Homo sapiens: one gene and its partners. The protein of the gene in region 5 interacts with the protein of the main gene of each other region in a pairwise test. Each region holds a gene or a part of one and is shown on either strand. Other genes may lie near its edges. The genes, in order: ZFP90, SMYD3, STMN3, SSX2IP, PKN1, ZNF488 and CEP57L1.

Region 1 (3,500 bases), on a different chromosome or scaffold from region 5:
GGTGACTGAGCGAGACTCCGTCTCAAAAAATAACTGTTTCAAAAATAAGATTCTTTTCCTTACTTTTCCGTGTTGTATTACTTTTGTTAAAGTATATCTTATGGCCGGGTACAGTGGCTCACACCTGTAATCCCAGCACTTTGGGAGGCCGAGACAGGCGAATTGCATGAGCCCAGGAGTTCGAAACCAACCTGGGCCACATAGTGAAACCCCATCTCTACTAAAAATACAAAAATTAGCCAGGTGTGGAGGCACACGCCTGTAATCCCAGCTACTTGGGAGGCTGAGACATGAGAATTGCTTGAGCCCGGGAGGTGGAGGTTGCAGTGAGCTGAGATTGCACCATTGCACTCCAGCCTGGGCGACACAGCAAGACTCTGACTCAAAACAAAGTATATTTTATTAAAGTATGTGAGCATATATAATATTAGAGACTTTTTACCTTTGATATAATCTTTGTCAGTTTTTATAAATTTTGATAAAATACACATAAGACAATCTTAAGTGTACAGTTCAGTGGTATTAAATACATTCATATGTAATGCAGCCATCACCACTACCCATCTTCAAAATTCTTCATCTTGTAAAACTGAAAACTCTACAATCCATTAAACAATAACTTTTCATTCTTTCTTCTTTCAGCCCGTGCAACTACCATTCTGCTTTCTATCTCTATGATTTTAACTACTCTATCTCATATAAGTGGAATCAAACAGTATGTTTTGTTTTGTTTTGTTTTTTATTAAGACGGATTCTTGCTCTGTCACCCAGGCTGGAGTGAGTGGTGCAATCTCGGCTCACTGCATCCTCAGCCTCCTGGGTTCAGGCGGTTCTGTCTCAGCCTCCTGAGAACTGGGACTACAGGCATGCGCCACCACGCCCAGCTAATTTTTGTGTTTTTAGTAGAGCCAGGGATTCATCATGTTGGCCAGGCTGGTCTCGAACTCCAGACCTCAAGTGATCTGCCCACCTCAGCCTCCCAAAGTGCTGGGATTAGAGGCGTGAGCCACCACGTCTGGCCAAAATCACACAGTATATCTTTTTGTGGCTGGCTTATTTCACTTATTATAATGTCTTCAAGATTCATCTAAGTCGTAGCATATATCAGAACTTTCTTTTAAAGGCTGAATACAGTGCTTTAAAATAAAAGCCTTTCTAAGGCTAAATACAATTCCATTTTGCTTATCCATTCATCCATTGATAGACACTTGCTTTGTTTACATGTTTAGCTATTGTGAATAATGCTGCTATGGCACTGAACATGAACATGAGGCATTGAACTATTGAACGTGGGGGTACAGATATCTCTTTGAGACCTGACTTTAAATTCTTTTGGTTATATACCCAGAGAGAAATTGCGGGGTCATACGGTAATTTTTTTCCGGAACCACCATACTGTTTCCATAGCAGCTGTATCTTTTTACATTCTTAACAGTGCACAAAGGGTTCTAATTTATCCACATCCCCCCAACCCTTGTTATTTTCTGTTTTATCTTGATAGTAGCCATCCTAACCAGTGTGAGGTGATATCTCATTGTAGTTTTGATTTGCATTTCTCTAATAATTAGTGTTCTTGAACATCTTTGTGTATCTTCTTTGGAGAAATGTTTATTCAAGTTCCTGGCACATTTTTGAATTGTTTTTTGTTGGATTTTTAGGAGTTCTCTATATATTCTGGGTATTACTTGCTTAATAATCTAGACTTTTTAATAGAAAAAAGTCATTTATGATCCCTCTTCCTTAGGACCTCTGTATTTGTTTTGGTGAATTTTCTTTTCTCCTTATGCATATTTTTCCCCTTAAACATTTTTAATTACAATGTATTTTAAATTTCATATAAATTTTATGAGGATTATTTTTGTTGTTGTTTAAAATCAGTTTTAATGACTATATTATATTGCTTTGTATGAATGTACCAAAATTTATTTAGCCATTTCTCAGAGAACATTTAGGTTGTTTCTGAAATTTTTACTATTATACATAATGCTGGGATAAAATTCCACTTGGTTGTAATACATAAGTTTTTCAAAATACAGTTGATCTCTCTTTTTTTTTTTTTTTTGAGACAGAGTTTTGCTCTTGTTGCCCAGGCTAGAGGGCAATCTCAGCTCACTGCAACCTCTGCCTCCTGGGTTCAAGCGATTCTCCTGCCTCAGTCTTCCAAGTAGCTGGGATTACAGGCGTGTACCACCATGTCTGGCTAGTTTTGATTTTTTAGTAGAGATGGAGTTTCACCATGTCGGTCAGGCTGGTCTCGAACTTCTGACCTCAAGTGATCCACCTGCCTCAGCCTCCCAAAGTGCTGGGATTACAGGTGTGAGCCACCGTGTCCGGCCCAGTTGATCATTTTTTAATATCTGTATTACTAAGGGAAATAGCCACCAGAGAGAAAGCACTCTCTTGGATGGGTTTTGGTGTCATGCTTATCCTTAATTTGTAGAAACATTCAGATTGCTTTTCACCTTTTTCTGTCTTTTGAAAGAATTTACCTATAAAACATTTAGACTCAGGATTTTTATAGACAAGATGTTTTGGCAACAATTTTCTCTATTTCCTCCTCAATTATAAAGGTTTCTGCTTTTTTGTGTAAACATTGGTAGTTTAGAATTTAAAAGTTTTTTGTTAAGATTTTTTGCATTTCTTAACACACTAGTGTGTATATTTCACTGTTCTGTTTATCCTCCTTTTTTTTTTTTTTTTTTTTTTTTTTTTTTATTGAGACGGAGTTTCGCTCTTATTGCCCAGGCTGGAGTGCAATGGCGCAATCTCGGCTCACCGCTACCTCCGCTTCCCAGGTTCAAGCAATTCTCCTGCCTCAGCCTCCTGAGTAGCTGGGATTACAGGCATGCACCTCCACACCCGGCTAATTTTGTATTTTTAGTAGAGATGGGGTTTCTCCATGTTGGTCAGGCTGGTCTCGAACTCCCGACCTCAGGTGATTCGCCCGCCTCGGCCTCCCAAAGTGCTGGGATTACAGGCATGAGCCACTGTGCCCAGCCTTATCCTCCTATCTTTAAGTTCATCTTTTAAAAATTTCTTCTTACTCGATTTATCAGAGGTTTTTCTATTTGGCTGGTGCTTAAGAGGAACCAGCCTTAGATTTGGCTGTTAATGCCATCGTTTTTCTGTTTGCCTCTGTTTTTTATAATCCAAGAATTTAATTCACTAACCCATGTGTTTTTTTTTAATCCTCGAAACAACTCCTCATTTTCCTGCATTGAGAATTACCCAGATTCTGTATCCATTCACTCAGCAGACGTGTTTGGAATGCTTGCTCTATGCCAGGCAGTGGTTCTTAACCAGGGTCATGCTTCAGAACCAGTCAGGAAGTGGTGCCTGCTTCCTCTGGGGTGGTGACAAGGCTTCAGTGAGGAAATGTGGTGAGAGTGCACGTAAATGACTGAGTTTAGTGTTTGCCTAGCAGCGAGTGTTCAAGAAATCTGAGCTGTTGCTCTTTGATAATGAACCACCTGAGGAGCTTTTAAAAGATGCTGGGCAAG
Region 2 (3,500 bases), on a different chromosome or scaffold from region 5:
TTCTTCTGCCTCATCCTCCCTTTCGACACTCAGGCTGCCCTGCTCGGGCCACTCTTAAGCACAGAAACTTTACATGGGTCCACCACATCCATAAAGAAGACCACACACCTACACGGGTGTCTGTTCTGCACGTATTTTGCAACCTTCTCTTCCCCACATCTACCAGGGCCTCTTTGAGGCACTAACTTACACCTTAAGTAGCTGGCAGTTTGACTGACTTTAAACAAAGAGGCCTTTCTTGTAAGTGAGGCCAAGTCCTCCACCAGAATACAGTCCATTATGTTTGGGAAACGTTTGGTTATATTTACATGGTGTTTGGCAGGTCACAATCTCTTTAAGTGTGTGCTGTGTTCTTATGCTGGGTGACAAATTTCCAAGCCTCCCTTGGTTTCTCTTCCCTGGCGTGTGTTGAGTTGCTTTTTGGTGGTATTTCAAGAAATCCAATCTGCATTGATCCACTTCACATGAGTGAGGTACGAATCATTTGCTTTTAAAGCTGTAGTTGAGGAAAAGGCTATAAATAAACCAGAACCAACAAAGTTGAGAGAAATGGGCAGGTTAGATGTTGTCATACTTTGCCTTTTTCCCCTTTAGCTCAGGCAGAGGTAAAAATAAGGAATGTATGCAAATAGGTCAGGTACCCTGCAACCCTGTTAGCAATTTTGGAACAAAGGCAGGAATGGAGAAGTTGGCAGTGGTTTTCACCTCTCACATGTGCATGAGGGAATTCACACTGAGTGCTCTCAGCCCCCCGCATCGGCTCCCTGCAGACGCAGGAGGTGGGCCTTTTGCTCACCTTTAGCCAAGGACACAGACAGTTAGCTAGGCATGAGTTACCAAGGGATGATTGCATTGCCATCTGCTGTAACAGTTTTACAATGTTAATATATTGTTTGCAACAACTAGATGGAGGTCAAGTCTTTCTTGATGATTTTGTCACTCCTGACCTTGGCTAAATTTTAATTGCTGACCTTAGAGGAGAAAGTGCTGCTATTCCATTTTAATCCAAATTATGGCCTTCAGCTCCCTTCTTGCTACTCTCATTTATTTTTACTCAATAGATTTTACTCAGTTTTTATGACGCAACTCAACATTACATCCTTCATGTTTCATAAAACAAGTTAGAAATCACATACAACAAAATGTATAATGTTTAGTATTAGCCCATAGTATGTCTTCTGATAGTATCGGCATATATATGTGACTAATATGGAAACTCATCTGTCCCTTAGCATTGTAAACAGGAAGTAGAATGAAGATAATTTTAAAATACTTCATAAATTTTATTTAAAAGTTTAACTTAGTCTAATGTTAATTCGCCAATTAGTAGTTCAGAACTTGGGATGCATTTTCCTATTAAAGATGGTTACAGATTATGGTGATGTCTCCAGACTAACCCATGAAAGTCTACTCAGCCTTTGATAGCACCACTGTATGGGCTATAAATTCCCCCCCCAGCCCCTAAAAACGGAGAGAAAAATACAAAATTGAGCACATTGTTTTAAAATTTTTGTGCGTCGAATATTAATTAAATTTGACTTTTCTTTCGGAACTAGAGAGTGATAAGGAGATATAGAGGGTGTTTCCGGCTTTGAAGAGGACTTTCAGGACATTCGCCCGTTCTGTTCATTTCTGTTGCGAGATTAACATATGCTTGTAGGGAAGGACAATTTAAGAGGACAGAAAGGTAAAAATCAGCCTCATCTTCAAACTGTTGTCCCACTCCTTAAAGATAAACATGGCTAAAAGTTTCCTTCTGGAAATGTTCCGTGTGAGAGTGGCCGGTCTGAATATATTCCAGAGCCAGATAGACCTCCGTCTTAGCATGGTGTCAGAGGATTGAAAGTAAACAGTAATCCTAACCTTCGCCAGAAAACATGAACAATGGTTCCATCATAATACACAGAATGTTTTTTTAAAGCCCTGCTTCCCCCATTCCTTTTATTCTGCTTTCCCAGTTACTCTCAACTCTCTTCCCTTCAGAACTGTTCACGTGGGCTCTTCCACTTTCTCCTGCACTTCTGCGTTTTTCCTGCTTGTCTTGCTGGGGGAAAGACTCATTTCCAATAGGTCTTTTAAATATGCCTGCTGAGGTGGTGTATGGAGGAGTGGGGATTAGAGAAAAGGAAGGGAAGCCAAGCCAAAGGTCCTCCTTAGTGTGCGGGAAAAAGAGAGAGAGAGAGAGAAAAGGATAACTCCCTAGCCCATGTTCTGTAACTTTTTTCACTTTACAAGAGAGTGTAGACATCTGTCTAGATTAGCTCCAGATTAGCTACCTTATTCTTTTTAACAGATACATAGTATTTCATCTCATGGATATGCCATAATTTTTAGATCAATCTCTGTCGTTTCCATTTATGTGTACTGTGTCAAACAGTGCCATGATTAATTGAATCCATAGGGTAAATCCACATGAGAAATTCCTAAGTGGTAACTTGGTACATCAAAAGTTAGGTCCCCCTGCTCTTAAAGTGAAAGTTATATTTATTTTAAATTTGGATAACCATTTCCAAATTGTACCTCCCCCACCACACACACTAAAATGTCACTCTTTCCTCAAGAAAATATGAGAAGAGATGACGTTGACTTCCGTTGTTTCTGATCTAAAGCCATTTCAAAACGTATTAGGGCCTTCATCTCTTCTTTCATCAAAGCCCACATTATAGGGTAAGATTTGTTGATATTAATTTTGTTGTCCATAAATAGTATTTTTGTGCTGGTGGGAATGACACTTTTGTGACGTACCTGGGAAAAAGGCAGAAGAACAAGAATGATGAAGAGACTTAAGTTGTGATCAGAGAAAGAGGCAAGGGAGGTGGGCTATGAAATCTCCATCAAGGAGAAGAAAGCTGATAAGAGTGAGATTTCAGCTCAGATAGTTTTCTGTGCTTTGTTGTCAGAAAAAATGGGGGCAGGTGGAGAGAGTGGAAGTATAATGCAGCTGGTAGTTTGTGTACCTGCCATGGTTACAAATCAGGGGTTTGTAACTGAGAGATTGTCAGTTAATTACATAGCAGCCCCATTCGTTTTTAATTTTGCGGGGGATTTTTTTTTTCTCCTTTTTTTGAGAAGGTTTGGAAGATAGGTTGATAAACTATGAGATTTCCTCATAACAGTACCTTCTACTGTTTTCAAGCAGGCTTTTCTGAAGAACTCCAGTTGTTCTTTCATGGGTTTTTGTCAGTGTGACATTCTGGTACAGGAGTCTGCAGAGCTTGCCGGGTACATGTTATAGTGGGAAGACCTGAGCGCACGTTTGGTGCAGCCACGCGCCCAGCGCTTGCTTTGGGCCTGCCTTCCTGACCCCGCATCCCAGGTGCGTATTACAGTGGGAGGACCTGAGCGCGCGTTCGATGCCGTCACATACCCAGCGCTTGCTTTGGGTCTGCCTCTCCCAATCCCGCATCTCTCCTTGTTGCTCAGATGTTGTTAGCTTGCTCTCTGAGGACGCTTGTGTCATTGTCTCTGACAACGAAGCTCATTCCTAGAGGGCAGGCTGG
Region 3 (3,500 bases), on a different chromosome or scaffold from region 5:
AAAATTAGCCGGGTGTGGTGGCATGTGCGTGTAATCCCTGCTACTTGGGAGGCTGAGGCAGGAGAATCGCTAGAACCCAGGAGGCGGAATTGCAGTGAGCAGAGATAAAAAAAAAAAGAAAACTGGTGTGCTGGCATGCACCTGTAGTCCCAGCTGCTAAGATGGCAGGATCCGTCAAGCCCAGAAGTTCAAGGCTGCAGTGAACCGCACAGCTGCACCCTACACTCCAGCATGGGCAACAGAGCACAGTCCTGTTTCTAAAAAATAAAGTAGGCCAGGCACAGTGGCTCACACCTGTAATCCCAGCACTTTGGGAGGTCGAGGCGGGCGGATCACGAGGTCAGGAGATCGAGACTATCCTGGCTAATATAGTGAAACCCCGTCTCTACTAAAAATACAAAAAATTAGCTGGGTGTGGTGGCGGTGCCTGTGGTCCCAGCTACTCGGGAGGCTGAGGCAGGAGAATGGTGTGAACCCAGGAGGCGGAGCTTGCGGTGAGCCGAGATCGCACCACTGCACTGCAGCCTGGGCAACAGTGCAAGACTCCATCTCAAAAAGAAAAAAAGAAAACTTGACAAGTCAGACCAAAGTCCCCTGTGAGGCTCCCCCACCTGGTCCCCCTCCATCTCCCTCCCTGAAGACAATGACCAAGACAGGTAGCTTTGCCTCGCTTCCCGGCTCAAAGTCTCATTCCTTCCCCCAAAGGCTCTCGCACGGGCCTGCCCACCCTGGGATTCCTTTCTGCTCCTCCTTACACCCTCTTGGGCTCTGTGCTGCTCTGTCCAGAAAAGTGTAGGTCACCAGGAAATTTAAGTCAGGACAGACCATTCTCTGCACTGTCACCAGAAGACCCAGCTCACCATGAAAGGCTTGATTACTTCTGCCTTGTCTGTCTTCCTTTCCTTTCCTTTCTTCTTTTCCTCCCTCCCTCCCTCCTTCCTTTCTTCCTCTCTCTCTTTTTCTTTCTGTTTTGAGACGGAGTCTCACACTGTCACCCAGGCTGGAGTGCGATGGCGCGACCTCGGCTCACTGCAACCTCCGCCTCCCAGGTTCAAGCGATTCTCCTGCCTCAGCCTCCCAAGTAGCTAGGATTACAGGTGCCTGCCACCACGCCTGGCTAATTTTTATATTTTTAGTAGAGATCGGGTTTCACCATGTTGGTCAGGCTGGTCTCAAACTCCTGACCTCAGGTGTTCCACCTGCCTTGGCCTCCCAAAGTGCTGGGATTACAGTTAAATGAGCCACTGCACCCAGCCAAAAGGATTATCGAGCACTAGTGAGAAACCGGGCCAGCGTGTCTGCTTAGGAATGAGGTTCGCCCTGAATAGACCAAAAGAGCTAAATTATTTTCACTGTGACAGCAGGCGCCTTCCTCTTCCCCTGACAGGGCACAGGGCCACAGGAGCCCGGCTTGCTTCTGGTTTGGGTTGGGCAGCAGGGACACTGGCTGGTGGGCACTTGATTGACCTGAATGGGCAAGAGGGCTGGCTGTGGTGCTGAACGGACAGCTTCCCTCCCTTGCTCCTTGGTGGCATCAGTGGCCCAAGCCCAGCCCTAGATAGACAGAGAGCATGTGCCTGGAGAGGGCCTGGTTTCATCTCAAGGTGACCACACAATCATTGGGAAGGAAAAAGGAGGGTCTGAGGGCTTCATCCAGGTTTACAGCCCAAGAAAGTCCTGCCCACAGAGGGTTTGCATCTGTGCTGGTCCCGTCATGAGTAAATCTTGCCTGCTTGAGCTGGCGAGGAGTGGGAAGGAGGAGGAGGGGAGAGAGAAGTAGCGGGACAGAGGGAGGTAAGAGTCAGAAAGACACACAGTGACAAGGAATCACAGAAAGATGCACTCAGGGAGAAAGACAGAGTCAGGGGCTACCCCCAGAGACACAGAAAGATACAATGACAGTGACAGAGTCAGACACACAGAAGGTAAACAGAGACCCAGACAGGCAGGGGTAGCCACTTTGTCAGTCTGGGCAGGTACCTGAGACTGAGTGGTTTATAGACGACAGGAACTTATTTCCCATCGCTCTGGAGGCCAGAAAGTCCAGGATCAAGGTGCCGGCAGAGTCGGTGCCTGGAGAGGTCTCGCCTCCTGGTACATAGACGGGTGGCGTCTTCTGGCTGTGTCCTCACATGATGGAAGGTGAGGGAGTTCTCTGAAGCCCCACTCTGGGGCCACTTAGGAGGGCTCTATCCTCATGGCCTAATTCCCTCCGAATGCCTCACCTCCGCACACCGGCACCTTGGGGTTACGATTTCAACACATGAGTTTTGGGTAATGGAAACATTCAGACCACAGCAGGCAGGAGAAGGATGGAGAAACAAGTCAGTGTGGAAGATGAGACAGACATTAATGCCGAGAGAGAGGAAAAGCGGGGAGAGGCAGAGGGCGAGAGAGACAGAAGGCAGGGGACACACCACGGAGACAGTGCCGACGTCTGGAAGCGAGAGAGCTGGAGAGACGAAGGGGCCGGCGGTGTGGAGACACACAAGAGAGCGTGCTGGGCAGCTCCGTGTCTCACAGAGACATGATAGAGGCAGCCATGGGGAGGGAAAACGGGGGCCCAGGTGGGCAGGCCCCAGTGGTGCTTGCTCAGCCCAGCCTTGTGCCCACAGCCTACAAGGAGAAGATGAAGGAGCTGTCGGTGCTGTCGCTCATCTGCTCCTGCTTCTACACACAGCCGCACCCCAATACCGTCTACCAGTACGGGGGTGAGTGCCTGGCTGCCGCCTGCCCTTCCCTGCGGTGCCTGCCCACCTCACCTTTTCCCCCGGCCTCCGGCAGTCTCTCTGAACTCCCGTCCTGGCTGCCTCTGGAGAGGGAGGTTCTAGGGGGAAGGGGCCCATCCTGGGGGCTGAAGCCTGGGATTCCTGCGGGAGCAGCCACCCCCTCTCGCCCAGCCCTGGGGTTGGATGTGTGCTGGGAGCATCCCGCTCAGCCCACGCCATGCCCTGGCCGGGCCTCTGAAGCTCTACTCTGGTCTTGCCCTGCAGACATGGAGGTGAAGCAGCTGGACAAGCGGGCCTCAGGCCAGAGCTTCGAGGTCATCCTCAAGTCCCCTTCTGACCTGTCCCCAGAGAGCCCTATGCTCTCCTCCCCACCCAAGAAGAAGGACACCTCCCTGGAGGAGCTGCAAAAGCGGCTGGAGGCAGCCGAGGAGCGGAGGAAGGCAAGGAGTCCTCCATCCCCCACCCCCCAGGAGTTTCAACGGAGGCGGCCCACGGGGACAGGGCCTGCAAGAAGCAGGGTGCTCCCGGACAGGCTTGGTCAGTGCCTTGGCCTGGAGCAGGAGGGGCTGTGGCTCCCTGGGCCTCTTTCTGAGAGATAAGAATGGGATGGGGAGAGGCCGGGTGTGGTGGCTCACGCCTGTAATCCCAGAACTTTGGGAAGCTGAGGCAGGCAGATCACTTGAGGTTGGAAGTTCAAGATCAGCCTGGCCAACATGGTGAAACCCCATCTGTACTAAAAATACAAAATTAGCCAGGTGTGGTGGTGCACAC
Region 4 (3,500 bases), on a different chromosome or scaffold from region 5:
AAGAGAAGCTGTGCTTCCTTGGAAGAGTTACTGGCAAGTAGCTTTTGAGTATTGGCAGGGGCTAGAATCACCATGAGCCGGATCCTGGGCCATTCCCCTGTCTGCTCCGCCTCAGAGACCCTGACCTCTGCTAGCCCATTGCTGACCTCAACTACTGATAGAGTTCTTCAGACTCAGTTGCTCCCTCATCCTGCTGATCTCCATGTGCGAGCAGTCGAATCAGCCCTTCTTTCTTTTCATCTTTTATCTTTCTTTTTTCCCCAGCAAGATTTTTATTGTTCAAATTAGTGAAGTATATCTCTCTGCCTTCCTGAATATTAATGACAAATTAGAACTACTTTATGTAGATGTGGGTTATTATGACATATATCCCTTTTAGTATTGTTTCCCCATGTTCTTTATCCTGCTTTGATTCTGTGTGATCATATATCAGTAAAGTTTGCTACTTCTTTATGATTTCATGTTTGGCAGAATACAAAGAAAAGTATCTCCCGTTATATAAAAAAGTATATGAGGAAAATAGAATTAACAGTTGCTTTTATTAAATACTTCAGAGATTATTTCACAAGTGCATTTCTTTAAGCAGCCTAGGATTAGAAACAAGTTGATCTAATGTCAAATATCAGTTCTGCCTCTTAGTTGTAATGCTGCTTCTCTAAACCTCGGTTTTCCCACATTGTAATGAGCTGAGGGTTAAATAACGTGAAAACATCCAACACATTAGACAGGTAGTGATATCTCCTTCTCAGACAGCTTCATGACTCTTGTCATTAACTGTATTTGGATTCAAATTCAGGTTTAGAGAGAGCTGAATTTAGGAGTCTCATTTTTTTTCTCAAGACATTTAAATACTGGGCCATATATGCATAAGACACAGCACAGAAATGATTTTGATGTGGCTTCCTCTGGTAATCAAACTGAAGACTACTTGCCTGAGCATCTAAAGCCATTGTAAGGTACTAGCCTTTCCTCTTCATCTCTCTCCGCTTGTAGGTTATTTCCGATGTTGAAGAAGATGCCGGGGAACTAAGCAGAGAGAGTATGTGGGACCTTTCCTGTGAAACTGTGAGAGAGCAGCTTACAAACAGCATCAGAAAACAGTGGAGAATTTTGAAAAGTCATGTAGAAAAGCTTGATAACCAAGGTAACCACTGCTTCTATGCATGTAAAGTGAGTTGTGACATTTGGTAAGGTGTTGATTTTTAGTCACTTAGAAAGCCGCATTATAGGCTCAGAGCTAAAGTACTATACTTCAGTTTGGTGGTTTGAAAGCAAGATTTTGCATACATTTATTTTTTCATTTTATTTTATTTTATTTTACTTTTTGAGACAGAACCTTGCTCGGTCACCCAGGCTAGAGTGTAGTGGTGCCATCTCGGCTCACTGTAACCTCCGCCTCCCAGGTTCAAGTTATTTCTCCTGCCTCAGCCTGCTGAGCAGCTAGGACTATAGGCGCACATCATAGCCAGCTAATTTTTTGGTGTGTTTTTAGTAGAGATGGGGTTTTGCTGTGTTGGCCAGGCTTATCTTGAACTCCTGGCCTCAAGTGATTCACCTGCCTTGGCCTCCCCAGAGTGTCTGGATTACACGTGTGAGCCACTGTGCACAGCCGACATTTTACATACATTTAGATGTGAGGTTTGAACCTCACTGAGAAAAATACACTTTGGTCTCAGAGTGAATGTTTGAAAAGAGGACATCATGGATCCATCTGCTCTGGATGCAGTATACAATCAAATAAAGATAACTGAGTTGGGATAAAAGACTACACATTGGGTGTAGTGTACACTGCTTGGGTGATGGGTGCACCAAAATCTCAGAAATCACCACTAAAGATCTTATTCATGTAACCAAACACCACCTGTTCCCCCCCAAAAAGAGAAAACTGAGTCTCTTTTACTGACTCTCAAAAATCAAGAAATATTTATCGTAGTATAGATAGGAACATTTTGCTTATTTCTAGATGCTTGCAGATTACTATGTTCCTAGTAATTCACTTAAAATTATTTTTAAAATAATAGATGTTTAATGCAAAATATTAATTTGGAAGTATATAAAGTAGAATATCCTGGTCTCTATTCCATACATATAACACTTAACAGTTTGGTGCATATTTTTCTATACTTTCCTCTATGGATTTGAAAGATACTTACTTTTTTTTAAATTTTAAAAATTGAATATTACCTATATTTTTCTTTAGTGTGCTTTTTTCACTTAACTATTATCCTTATACATAGCTCTACATTGATGAATATATTCTTAATATTTTCTGCTTGGTAAAGTTTGAATGCTTTTAAACTAGGAAAATGAAGATTTCTGCTCAGTAAATGAAGCCTATTTAAAGAAAAATTTAAATTGTCAAAATATGAACTCAGTGCCATTGTGTTAAGTATTAGTAAAGAGCAATCAGCAAAATTATTATTACAGCACCAAAATGAATCTACATGAGATTTTGTTCATTTGAGTCAATGCTGTTTATTATCAAATAGCAAGTATGTTTGGACTTCGTATTTGTTGAATTTAATATTTGAGAGCAAGATTTGTGACACTTCATTGATCTTTGAAGCAGTGTCAACAAAAACATGATTTTATTTTTCTCTTCTCTGAATATGGCCATTTTGTCTGTTTTTAATTAGGACATAATCATGAATAAATATGGATTACAAATTGTTGGCAATAGAGCTCTGTTTGTAAGCATATCATTTAGTCTTAAAATTGCACAAATGTGTAATTGTCGTCATGAACTCCTGTAGTTGCTTTGCTTAAACATTTTTTATAATGTTAAAATAATATAAATTTAATTTTGTTATAGCTTATGAAATTTTAAAAAGTCAAAGGACGTAACTACTTTTTAGAAAACCTATAAAATTCTAGAAAGATAAAAGTTCTGAGAGCCCTTGTTTTAAAGATATGTGCAAAACACTGTAAACTAAGTGGTGGCTATAAGACCTATGTCAACTTACTGATTTTGTCTTAGTTTCAAAGGTACACCTGGAAGGTTTTAATGATGAAGATGTAATCTCACGACAAGACCATGAACAAGAAACTGAAAAACTCGAGTTAGAAATTCAGCAGTGTAAAGAAATGATTAAAACTCAGCAACAGCTTTTACAGGTGAATATGAATTACCTTTTAAAGCTGTTCTCCATGAAAAGCCAGAATTGTGCTGAACCTTACCAGATTTGTATTCCTTTATTTCATAAGGCCCTGGTATTTGACAGATTTCTAGTCTGTGTTCCCTGCTAACAGATACATTGTGTACCACTCCTTAAATAGTCCATACTTTGCTAGTTGGGGTAGTAGGTTTCGGGAAATGAGAATTCTCATTTGACTTTTTGATTCTTAATAATTTCTATTCCTGCCCTGAAGTTTGACTGGCCTTCCCTTGCTTTCATTTCAACTCGTTGGAGTGTCGCAAGGTCCCTCAGGAACTTACTATGTTTTAAATTTTAATAGCAGCAGCTCGCTACTGCATATGATGATGATACCACTTCACTATT
Region 5 (3,500 bases):
ATAGAGATAGATAAATGGATAGATGGATTAGATAAATAGATGATATAGATACCTAATATAGATGGATACATAGATAAGACAGATAATATAGGTGTATCTATCAATGGATAGAGGATGCATTGATAAGATGGCTGGGCCGGGCGCGGTGGCTCACGCCGGTAATCCCAGCACTTTGGGAGGCCAAGGCGGGCAGATCACGAGGTCAGGAGATGGAGACCATCCTGGCTAACACGGTGGGTGAAACCCCGTCTCTACTAAAAATACAAAAAATTATCCGGGCGTGGTAGCGGGTGCCTGTAGTCCCAGCTACTCGGGAGGCTGAGGCAGGAGAATGGCATGAACCCGGGAAGCAGAGGTTGCAGTGAGCCAAGATCGCACCACTGCACTCCAGCCTGGGAGACAGCGAGACTCCATCTCAAAAAAAAAAAAAAAAAAAAAAGATGGATGGATGAATGCATAGACAGACAAAATGGATGGATGGACACGTAGGTGGGTAAATAATAGATAATATGTGTGTGTATACATATATAGGTAATCTATCATATATATATGTAAAATGGGGTACACATATAGGTTAGCGGAAGATTAAAAGAGTTTTTTAGGATAATTTGGCTAAATGAGGGGTCAAGTGCCCCTTCTCTGTGCCCCAGTTTCCTCCTCTGTCAAATTTGAGTAATAACAGTCCCTCTTTTGTTGGTTGGTTGTGAGAATTAATGAGTTCACGTCGCCAAAGTACTCGCTACAGAGCCTGGCTTATACTATGAGAACTCAGCTAGAAATGTCATTTAGACCAGGGGTTCCCGGCCAGGGAGCACTTGACAGTGTCTGGAGACCTCTGGGCTGTCAAAACTCAGGGGGAGGTGGTGCTACTGACATCCTGTAAGCAGTGGGGAGAGGTGCTACATCCTCTAGTATGCAGGACAGCCCCACCACAGAGGATGATGTGGCCCCAGATGTCAACAGTGCCAAGGGTAGGCCACCTCAATTCAGACCTTCACCCTCACACAGCTGTGGAAGGAATCACTTTCTCTTGACTGTGGCTCTGGTAGCAATCACCACGATATGTTGCCAGGTTTTGTATCTCTTTCCTGGTTGGAAGAAATTTTATAATTTATTTCCTTTTTTCTTTAAACATTTCTAAATTTGGAAATCAGCTTCTTCTTCTTCTTTTTTTTTTTTTTTAAGTATCTTGCCTCAGAACAAAACCAATCCCAGCTAAGGTCCTATCACTGATGTGGCTAATTAGAAGTGCTTTTCTTCTTCTTCTTCTTCTTTTTTTTTTTTTTTTGAGACAAGAGTCTCACTCTGTTGCCCAGGCTGGAGTGCAATGGCGTGATCTCAGCTCACTGCAACCTCTGTCTCCTGGGTTCAAGCAATTCTCCTGCCTCAGCCTCCCAAGTAGCTGGGATTACAGGTACCCACTATCATGCCCAGCTAATTTTTGTATTTTTAATAGAGATGGGGTTTCACCATGTTGGCCAGGCTAGTCTGGAACTCCTGGCCTCAAGTGATCCACCTGCCTCAGCCTCCCAAAGTGCTGGGATTACAGGCGTGAGCCACCACACCTGGCCAAGGTGTACTTTTCTATCAAGGTTCAGAGACAGATCTAAAATGTATCTTCCCCTTCTAGAATACACGGGTCTAAAACATACCTGCCACTTCTGAAAGAGCCTGATCTAAAACTATCTTTCTGTATTAAGAGAAACCATATCTAAAACATATCTTATGCTTCTAAAAGAGCCTGATCTAAAATGTATCTTCCCCTTCTAGAACAAGCAGATCTTTTTTTTTTTTGTGAGACTCCTGGGCGACAGAGTCTCACTCTGTCGCCCAGGCTGGAGTGCAGTGGTGGGATCTCAGCTCACTGCAGCCTCCGCCTCCTGGGTTCAAGCGATTCTCCTGTCTCAGCCTCCCAAGTAGCTGGGACTAAAGGCATGTGCCACGACGCCCAGCTAATTTTGTACTTTTAGTTGAGACGCGGTTTTACCATGTTGCCCAGGCTGGTCTCCCTGACCTCAGGTGATCCTCCTGCCTCAGCCTTCCGAAGTGCTGGGATTACAGGCATGAGCCACCACGCCCAGCCTAGAACAGGCAGATCAAAAGCCTATCTTCCCTTTCTAGAAGAGCCTGATCTAAAACATATCTTTCCCTTCTAGAAAAAAGCAGACCTAAAACGTCTCTTCCCCTTCTGGAAGAGCCTGACCTAAAACGTATCTTCTCCTTCTAGAAAAGGCAGAGTTAAAACATATCTTCCGTTTCTAGAAGAGCTGGATCTAAAATCTATTTTCCTCTTCTAGAAAAGCCTGACTTAAAACTTATCTTCCCCTTCTGGAAGAGCCAGACCTAAAACATATTTTCCCCTTCTAGGAAACTGGGAATGGGGCAGTGAGGGAGAAGAAGCATTTTCTCAGGGTCAGGTGTGGGCTATACCTCAGCCACCAGGCAGCCCTGGGGTTCCATGTCCAGCTGCACCTCATGCCTCTCATTGTCCAAGAAATCCTCCAACTTCAGGAATTTGAGGGCACACAGGCCCCGCTGGTCCCGCCAGAACACAGCCAACTCCAGTTCCCGTGCCTGGAGGGAGAGGAAGAGGGCCATCACTCAGGGTGCCAGAGGCATGGAACCCCTCCTCCTCTAGGCCCTGCTGTCCTCCAACGCAGCTCACCCTTTCCAGCTCCAGAGTGAAGCTCTGGTCCCAGGCATTGGGGCCACATGGCTTCCAAGACGTCTGCCCCACCACTGTGTTATCCAGCTTAAGCACAGTGCTGACTTCACCTGAAATGGGAGAGAGGGCCCAGTCAGAAAATGCTGGCAGTAGCCAGACAAGGTTGCTCATGCCTGTAATCCCGGCACTTTAGGAGGTTGAGGCAGGCGATCACTTGAGGCCAGGAGTTCAAGACCAGCCTGGCCATCATAGCGAAACCCCGTCTCTACTAAAAATACAAAAAATTAGCTGGGCGTGGTGGCACGCGCCTGTAATGCCAGCTACTCGGGAGGCTGAGGAAGGAGAATCACTTGAACCCAGGAGGCAGAGGTTGTAGTGAGCCAAGATCGTGCTACTGCGCTCCAGCCTGCGTGACACAGCAAGACTCGGTCGAAAAGAGAGAAGAGAAGAGAAGAGAAAATAAAAACGGCCAGGCACAGTGGCTCATGCCTGTAATCTCAACACTTTCGGAGGCTGAGGCAGGTGGATCACCTGAGGTCAGAAGTTTGAGACCAGCCTGACCAACATGGTGAAACCCCATGTCTACTAAAAATAAAAAATTACCCAGGCGTGGTTGCACATGCCTGTAATCCCAGTTACTCGGGAGGCTGAGGCAGGAGAATCCCTTGAACCCAGGAGGCAGAGGTTGCAGTGAGCCGAGATCACGCCACTGCACTCCAGCCTGGGCAACAAGAGTGAAGCTCCATCTCAAAAAAAAAAAAAAAGAAAAAAAAAAAAGAAAAAGAAAGAAAATCCTGGCAGAAAGGGGCATGTCTATTATCTTTTTCTTTTTTTT
Region 6 (3,500 bases), on a different chromosome or scaffold from region 5:
TGTGTTTTAACTGAAGAGAAAAGCAGATGCAGCAAAGCACTGCTTGGGGGGAGCGGGTGGGGGTACATGGTGTCTCTGAATAAGATCTGGTGCCTGACCTGCAGCTCAGAACAGCTTGAGGCTGGCCAGTTGGCTTGGGTTAGGGAGTGACTTCAGACATCCCAGGAAAAAGAGGTTATCCAGATGTTTGCCAAGAGTTCTTTCTTCTGTAGGTGGAGCAGGAAGGAGAAAAATGCCCAGGCTGTTTGGTCATTTATTAAACACTGTTATGCACTGGTCCCTGAGAGCTCAGGAGTAATGGGAAGGCTGCCATGGAGTGGACTCTGTCCCTTTGCACTCAGTGCGATAAGAAGTGATACCCCTAATGTTTACTGAGCCAGGTTCCTTAGCACTTTCTCTATATTAATCCTTCTAATCTTTCCCACAACCCAGTGAAGAAAACACCAAGGTGACCCTCTTTATAGATCAGAAAACAGGCCTGGAGGGGACCCACGCCTTGCCCAAGGTCACAGGTTGGATACAGCAGAGCTGGCCTCCAACCGTGGAGCCCGTGCACTTAACATCTATTTGGATGGAAGGCTCGAAGGTTACCTGAGACAACCTGGTCAAGGTGATAATGTGGGAGAATGTGGCCAGTGGTTCCCAGATGAGTGAATGATCAGTGTGCAGTCACCAGAGGATGGGTGATAAACCGAGAACCACAAGCTCTTAACACTGTGGGGTGGGCGAGGCTTCATCTCCCAGGATGCAGCACTTGCTGAGTTGGGCAACAGGGGACCCTGGTTGATGGCCCAGGTTGGTTGGAAGCCTTTGGGAGATGTGCTCTGTGTTGGTGGGGAAGGCCAGGCATGGTTAGATCCCCTGTAGACTTGGGGAGCTCAGTTTCAGAAAGTTTCAAAGATCATCACTTGATTTCTGTGATTCACGTGATCTGAGGGCTCTGAAAGTGGTGGGTGAGTCCTGGAATTAAATCTGTTTTTTTCAAGTAGGAAAGACATGGGGTGGCAATGAGAGACATCTGTGTGGCTCAGAAAGATGTCTTGCTGAGGTCAGAGGGACAAGAGCCAAGGAGAACAAGAGGAGCCCTTCCCAGGACACTCACAATGACAGAGTGACGAGGGCCAGTAAAGAGTGTCAGGGGGTGAGAGCCCGGGTGTGAACTGAACCTACTGAGGAGAGCTGACGACCACAAAGCATCTTTTCATATCATGTTCGGAGCAAGGAGAACAAGGGCTTCATAGATCCATCGCCGTCTAGGGCAGCTGGTGTCTGTGAAGGGGAGGAAGGCACAGCTCCACTGTGCCCACAGCGGTCTGGACAGAGGAGGATCTGCAGGTGCAAAGGGCGCAGGCAGGTTCCCGGAGGAAAGCAGGAGCCACGTAGCGTGGGCTGCAGTGTGTGTGCTCAGGGCTCTGACCAAGAGAATGCCCTGGCCAGGGTATAGCATGACCTGGAATGAGATACCCCCATCTGAGGTGCTGTCTGAGAGGTGTTGGAAATGAAGCCCGGAGGTGGAAGAGACTCAAATCTGATGTTGGCCCTGGGAAAGATCCTAGACTAAGAAGAAGGCTGTGAGTCTGTGGGCAAAGGAGAGACGTGCATGAGGAGCTGGCGGGGGCTCCCTGGGGACAAGTCATGCCAGCCTCACGTCATTTTCCACCTTGCAGGTCTTCGGTCTGGCCCTTGTTCTGTTGGGGTTCTGGAGGACGTGCTGTGCCCTGGCCTTACTGACCTTACTCCATGCAGTGCTGATGCATGCGACAGCGGTGACCCTCCAGGGTCCCAGGTGGGATGAAAGGTCCCCAGCTAGTTCCTAGTTTCATCTCCTCATTTTCTCCATCCTCCTGCTCCTTCTTATTAAGATCTGGATGTTAACATTGATGGAGTGTGAAGCTGGGTGGGATATTTAATTCAGCAGTTGGCGGTGTCAGGATCCACAGTGGTCTCTGAAAGCTGAGATGCTGCCCTGAGTTTATCGGGATGGCATTTGGCAGATTGGAGATAAGTGCATCTGAATTGAGACACATAGCTTCCCTCATATGGTTTTTATGAAAATGAAATGAACAAGGTGCCTTATTTCATTTGTTAATACTATTGTTTGTCATGTAGATACTTACGTAGCCGATAAATGGTAACTTCTATTCTGATACCCTGAAGCATCCTGATAGCAAATGTTCCATCCTGCTGTAAAGGAGAACTGGTTTCTTCCAATTAGTCATACATGAGTAGGTCTGGGATGGCCTGGAGAGACAGCTTAGCCAGAGCGCATTTTACAGATGGAAACCTGAGGCTCAGAGAGGTTGAGTGCTTTGCTCGGGAACACAGAGAGGAGTGATGTTTCTGCCTCTGCCTCTTTGGGAGACACTGGCCGACATTCACCTCTGACGTCAGGCACCCCCTCTGAGGAATCCACTCAAAAAGGGCATCAGGAGTGGTGTGGAGCCTGCTGCACCACGTGGTTTGCGTCCTCTTCATGAAGTCACACGGGGTGGTCTGCAGGGCAAGGCGGGGTGGCGATGTTCCACAGGAGCTAGTCAAAAGCTTGTGACAAAAGGGAACGTGAGGTTTTATGTTCACTTTTCTTGCTTTCTCTCTGATTTATCCCATGCTTTCACTCCATGAGAGGGTTGGGCTCTCTGTCTCATCTCCTTGAGAGCTCCTGCAGGAAGTGGCTGGACGCAGGTACATCCTTTCATGGCTGGGCGGGAAGCAGGGAGAGGAAGAAGCTGATTTGGCCCAGGCTATATTTATGCATAGCAAGCCATGGAGGCTCTCATCCACTCCTAGATTCTCCCTGAGCCCTGGGATAAATATTTTCTAAGGATGAGAATTCTGGAATGCTGAGTGGAGTCTGGTTCTGCCAGTACCTCTCACCAGTGGAGGGGGCACTTGAAGAGCTTGAGTTCTAGTTTCCAGAACTTGAGGGTGGGGCTGGTGAGAGCGGGTAGGGATGAAGGCATCCCAGCAGGGCTGATACCACCTCCCCATGGGTGCCACCTTTACATGTGGTCAGTGCATGTCTTCCCTTCCACACCGTGGGCACTTCCAGGGTGAGGCTGAAAGCTGGTCCATCCATGGAGGTCCAGTTTGGCACAGGCAGGCAGTTCGCGAAGCTCTGCCAGGGGAGCAGAGAAGCGAGTGGATCCATGTGTGGGGAGAACCAAGAGTGAGCACTTCTGGCGAGTGGAGATGAGGTTACACATGCTCTCTCTAGGGGCAGGGCCAGGTGGTGGGGTGGCAGCCCCTTAGTGTGGGGGTGGGGGCCAGGCACAGCCAGACCCATCCTGCCAAGCCTGCATGTGCATTGCTCCAACTTTTGTCCTTCTGTGCACCTATGCCTACAGATCCCCTGTCCCCAGGTGCCTGAAGTGGCCTGGCACTCCTGAGGGTCAGGAGAAAAAATGAGTATGGCAACCAGCAAGGAAGGAAAACTGCCCTCAACCAGGGTGCAAACACAGTCGAATTAAGTCAGAGCTGGCAGGCAGAAGCCCTGTGTGCTC
Region 7 (3,500 bases), on a different chromosome or scaffold from region 5:
TGGTGGTATCAGTGTTTTGGACTTTAGCTGTTCTAATAGGTATGTAATGGTATCTCATTATTGTTTTAATTGGTGATTCCCCAATGACATATGTTGAGCATCTTTTCATACGCCTATTTGCTGCCTGTGTATCATGTTTGGTGAGGTGTCTTTTCAGATCTTTTGTCCATTTTTAAATTATTATTACTGTTGAGTGTTTTTGTTTTTTAGAGGCAGGGTCTCCCTAGGTCACCCAGGTTGGAGTGCAGTGTTGCTTTCATAGATCACTGTAACCTCAAACCCCTTGGCTCAAGCAGTCCTGCCTCAGCCTCCGAAGTAGCTAGAACTACAGGCATGCACCTCCACGCTCAGCTTACTATTGAGTTTTAAGAGTGCTTTGTATATTTTGGACACACAAGTCCTATATCAGACCTGCATTTTGTAAATATTTTCTCCAAGTCTGTGGCTTGTCTGTTCATTCTTTAATAGTGTCTTTTGCAAAGCAGAAATTTTTAATTTTAGTGAAGTCCAGCTTTCATGTATCATGCTTTTCGTGTTGTAGCTAAAAAGTCATTGCCATACCCAGGGTCATGTAGATTTTCTCCTGTCTTCCAGAACTTTTACAGCTTTGTGTTTTGCATATAGGTTTATGATCCATTTTTTAGTTTTTTTTTTGTAAAAGGTATAAGGTCTGTGCCTAGATTTATGTTTTTATTAAAAAGTTTCTGCTGGATCTGAAATTATTATTTTGATCAATAATATTAAAAGGTGAAAAACTTTTTTTTAAAGACCATTATACTGAATCTGTACAACTATATTGGTGCCATTCTTCAAAACTGTTCCTTGAGAGAGAGACCTGAAGTCAGCCTAAAGATGAGGCCAGGGAGAACTTTATCTGGAATGTATCAGGAAACCGGACTAACAGTTCCATTTTAGTTATCTGTTGTCAGCATGTGCAGTTGGCTGAGTGCTGTAAGTGAAAATTGTTAGGAAGACTTTCTACAATTAAGAATATTATTCTCCAATTGAATTACCTTGTTACTTGTCTACATTGCTGGTTTTTGTTTTTGTTTTTTTGCTACTTTTTTGCCTAGTCTTACAAGGTTGCAAAAATCAACCTGTGATTTTTCCACAATAGTTTGACCCTTCTCTACAATGAAACACTGAAGCCATGTAAACTTAAAATATCTCTTTCTATGATAACTGACTTCAACTTAAGTTTTTAAAGGAAATTATACTAATTATTTACTGTATAGTAGCATAAGCAGTTTTGCCTCTAAATGCTTCCTTAGTTTTTCTTTTGGCTTGTTGAAAAATGTCTTGTCAACCAAGTACTATATGTGTACTTTTATGTGTGGGGTATATGTGTATTGCCCAAATGAATCATAAAGGCTCTTAATTTGAATCTGTATATTTTATTTTTAAGTTTTCCTTAACAAGGTCGATTTGAATTCCTTAACAAGATTGATTTGAATGATATTCTTTTCAGCCCTTCAAAAACATATTTTCTGAAACACTGTCATACATACTATTCTCAGAATACCATGCCCCTTTTTTCTATGTTATTTTGGTTCCATCTTTCAGGAATAAATGAGTAAACCACTTAAATCAAGTTTACTCTTCAGTATTTTCTCCAGTTTTTCTGTTTTTGGTGTCTCCAAATTTACTATAGTATGCTTTGAATGACTAAATCTCTAGTATTTCTGACATATATTAATGGATAGATTTTTAAAAACCAATAATTGTTGAATCTATTTTCATTTTGCTCTTCTTGAAAGATTTGTGAGCGAGCTCTAGCAATATACGCAACATACAATATGAATTTTATAAACCAGTCTCACTACTGATTTTATTCTTATTTTTCTACTTATTTTCCTTATCCACATTTTACATGAATATATACATATATAGGGGTAAGATATTAAAATTATATGTCATTTTTAAAAGCATTACATATTTCAAACAAAAAATAAGAGTAACAAAATAAATACCCTTTTAAACTACCCCTTGGAATGAACAAATGTTAACATTTTACCTAGTTTGCTTTAGTTTTTGTTTTTTTTTTTTTCAATGAAATGAAATATCACATAGGTTGTGAAAGTGCTCTTGGCACAGTCATATATTGTCTTTGTCTTTTAAAAAAATGTTACATAGAAGATATCTTACTATCTGTAACTTACTTTCTGTTTTACTCAACAATATATTTTCAGAGCTTATCTGTGTTGCTAAATGTAGATCTTGTTTTCAAATTTTAGCTGGTGTATAGTGTTTCATTGTATGAATATGATACAACTTATTTATCCAGTCCCTATTAATGTATATTTATTTAAAAAAAAAATTTTTTTCTGTTGCAATCAGTGCAGCAGTGAACATCATTATACATATGTCCAGATATGTGCCATTTTCTCTAGGGTTCACTCATAAATTCGGAGAAGTGGAATTGCTGAGTTATAGGATATACACAGGATCACATTTTTCAAGTTATGTTTTGTTTTACCAGTTTACACTCCCACTGGCAGTTCATGGGAATTTTCATTTCCCCACATCCTTGACAAAACTTAATATTGATAGGCGTGTTTTTTTGTTTGTTTTTTGTTTGTTTGTTTTGTTTTGTGAGACAGAATCCCACTCTGTTGCCCAGACCAGAGTGCAGTGGCACAATCACAGCCCACTGCAAGCCTCAACCTCCCGGGCTCAAACGATCCTCCCACCTCTGCCCTACAAGTAGCTGGGAACACATGTGTGTGCCACCACACCCAGCTAATTAAAAAATTTTTTTTTTGTAGAGACAGGGTCTCACAGTATTGCCCAGGCTGATCTTGAACTCCTGGGCTCAAGAAGTCCTCCCACCTCAGCCTCCCAAAGTGCTAGGATTACAGACATGAGCCACTGCACTGGGTCCTGATAGGCTTCTTTTAAAATTTTTTTCAATCTAATGGGTGTAAAATAATTTCTGTATTGTTTAAATTTGCATTTTCCTGATCAATGAAGTAGAACGTTTTTGTCCTTTTAGCTATTCGTGTTTTCTTGTCTTTTAACTTCCATTGTACCTTTTGTTCCTTTGTTAATTGACCTTTGTGTTTTTCTTAATAATTTATAGGATAGAACTTGTTTCTGTATTTCAGATACTAATCTTTTATGTTATATATGTTTCTTTTTTAAAGATATCATCAATGATGTTTTTTGTTATACAGACATTTTAATTTTTATATAGTTTTATCATTTTTTCTTTTTTATTTGTAAATTGTCTTGTTTTAAGAAATCTCTTCTTACCCAAAGTCTGAAACGTACTCTATATTTTCTTCTAAAACAAAGGTTTGTTGTTCACGTATAGATGTTCAGTCTAGCTAGAATTTATTTTTGTGTTTGGCATGGAGTAGAGATATATGTTTATATTTTACCGTGTGGATAGCACTGTATAGTGAATATTGGCATAGTGAATATTGAATAGCCAATCCTTTCTCCATGTAAATGCCCTCTTTTTCATATACCAAATTCCCACATATGTAAAAGTTTATTTA

Evidence for each region.
Region 1: the proteins of PKN1 (region 5) and ZFP90 interact in binary tests that used the Homo sapiens proteins (3 or more experiments, as listed by UniProt).
Region 2: the proteins of PKN1 (region 5) and SMYD3 interact in binary tests that used the Homo sapiens proteins (3 or more experiments, as listed by UniProt).
Region 3: the proteins of PKN1 (region 5) and STMN3 interact in binary tests that used the Homo sapiens proteins (3 or more experiments, as listed by UniProt).
Region 4: the proteins of PKN1 (region 5) and SSX2IP interact in binary tests that used the Homo sapiens proteins (3 or more experiments, as listed by UniProt).
Region 6: the proteins of PKN1 (region 5) and ZNF488 interact in binary tests that used the Homo sapiens proteins (3 or more experiments, as listed by UniProt).
Region 7: the proteins of PKN1 (region 5) and CEP57L1 interact in binary tests that used the Homo sapiens proteins (3 or more experiments, as listed by UniProt).

Annotation. Positions count from the first base shown.
Region 1 is NC_000016.10:68,545,791-68,549,290, forward strand, and holds part of ZFP90 (zinc finger protein 90 homolog), read left to right. Parts: intron 1-3,500.
Region 2 is NC_000001.11:245,853,280-245,856,779, reverse strand, and holds part of SMYD3 (histone-lysine N-methyltransferase SMYD3), read left to right. Parts: intron 1-3,500. UniProt on the Homo sapiens protein: Histone methyltransferase. Specifically methylates 'Lys-4' of histone H3, inducing di- and tri-methylation, but not monomethylation. Also methylates 'Lys-5' of histone H4.
Region 3 is NC_000020.11:63,643,425-63,646,924, reverse strand, and holds part of STMN3 (stathmin-3), read left to right. Parts: intron 1-2,615; coding exon 2,616-2,711; intron 2,712-2,993; coding exon 2,994-3,169; exon of another isoform or gene 3,170-3,266; intron 3,267-3,500. UniProt on the Homo sapiens protein: Exhibits microtubule-destabilizing activity, which is antagonized by STAT3.
Region 4 is NC_000001.11:84,655,962-84,659,461, reverse strand, and holds part of SSX2IP (afadin- and alpha-actinin-binding protein), read left to right. Parts: intron 1-993; coding exon 994-1,144; intron 1,145-2,977; coding exon 2,978-3,114; intron 3,115-3,456; coding exon 3,457-3,500. UniProt on the Homo sapiens protein: Belongs to an adhesion system, which plays a role in the organization of homotypic, interneuronal and heterotypic cell-cell adherens junctions (AJs).
Region 5 is NC_000019.10:14,457,306-14,460,805, reverse strand, and holds part of PKN1 (serine/threonine-protein kinase N1), read right to left. Parts: intron 2,776-3,500; coding exon 2,666-2,775; intron 2,575-2,665; coding exon 2,431-2,574; intron 1-2,430. UniProt on the Homo sapiens protein: PKC-related serine/threonine-protein kinase involved in various processes such as regulation of the intermediate filaments of the actin cytoskeleton, cell migration, tumor cell invasion and transcription regulation.
Region 6 is NC_000010.11:47,377,794-47,381,293, reverse strand, and holds part of ZNF488 (zinc finger protein 488), read left to right. Parts: intron 1-432; exon of another isoform or gene 433-1,786; intron 1,787-3,500. UniProt on the Homo sapiens protein: Transcriptional repressor. Plays a role in oligodendrocyte differentiation, together with OLIG2. Mediates Notch signaling-activated formation of oligodendrocyte precursors.
Region 7 is NC_000006.12:109,102,007-109,105,506, forward strand, and holds part of CEP57L1 (centrosomal protein CEP57L1), read left to right. Parts: intron 1-3,500. UniProt on the Homo sapiens protein: Centrosomal protein which may be required for microtubule attachment to centrosomes.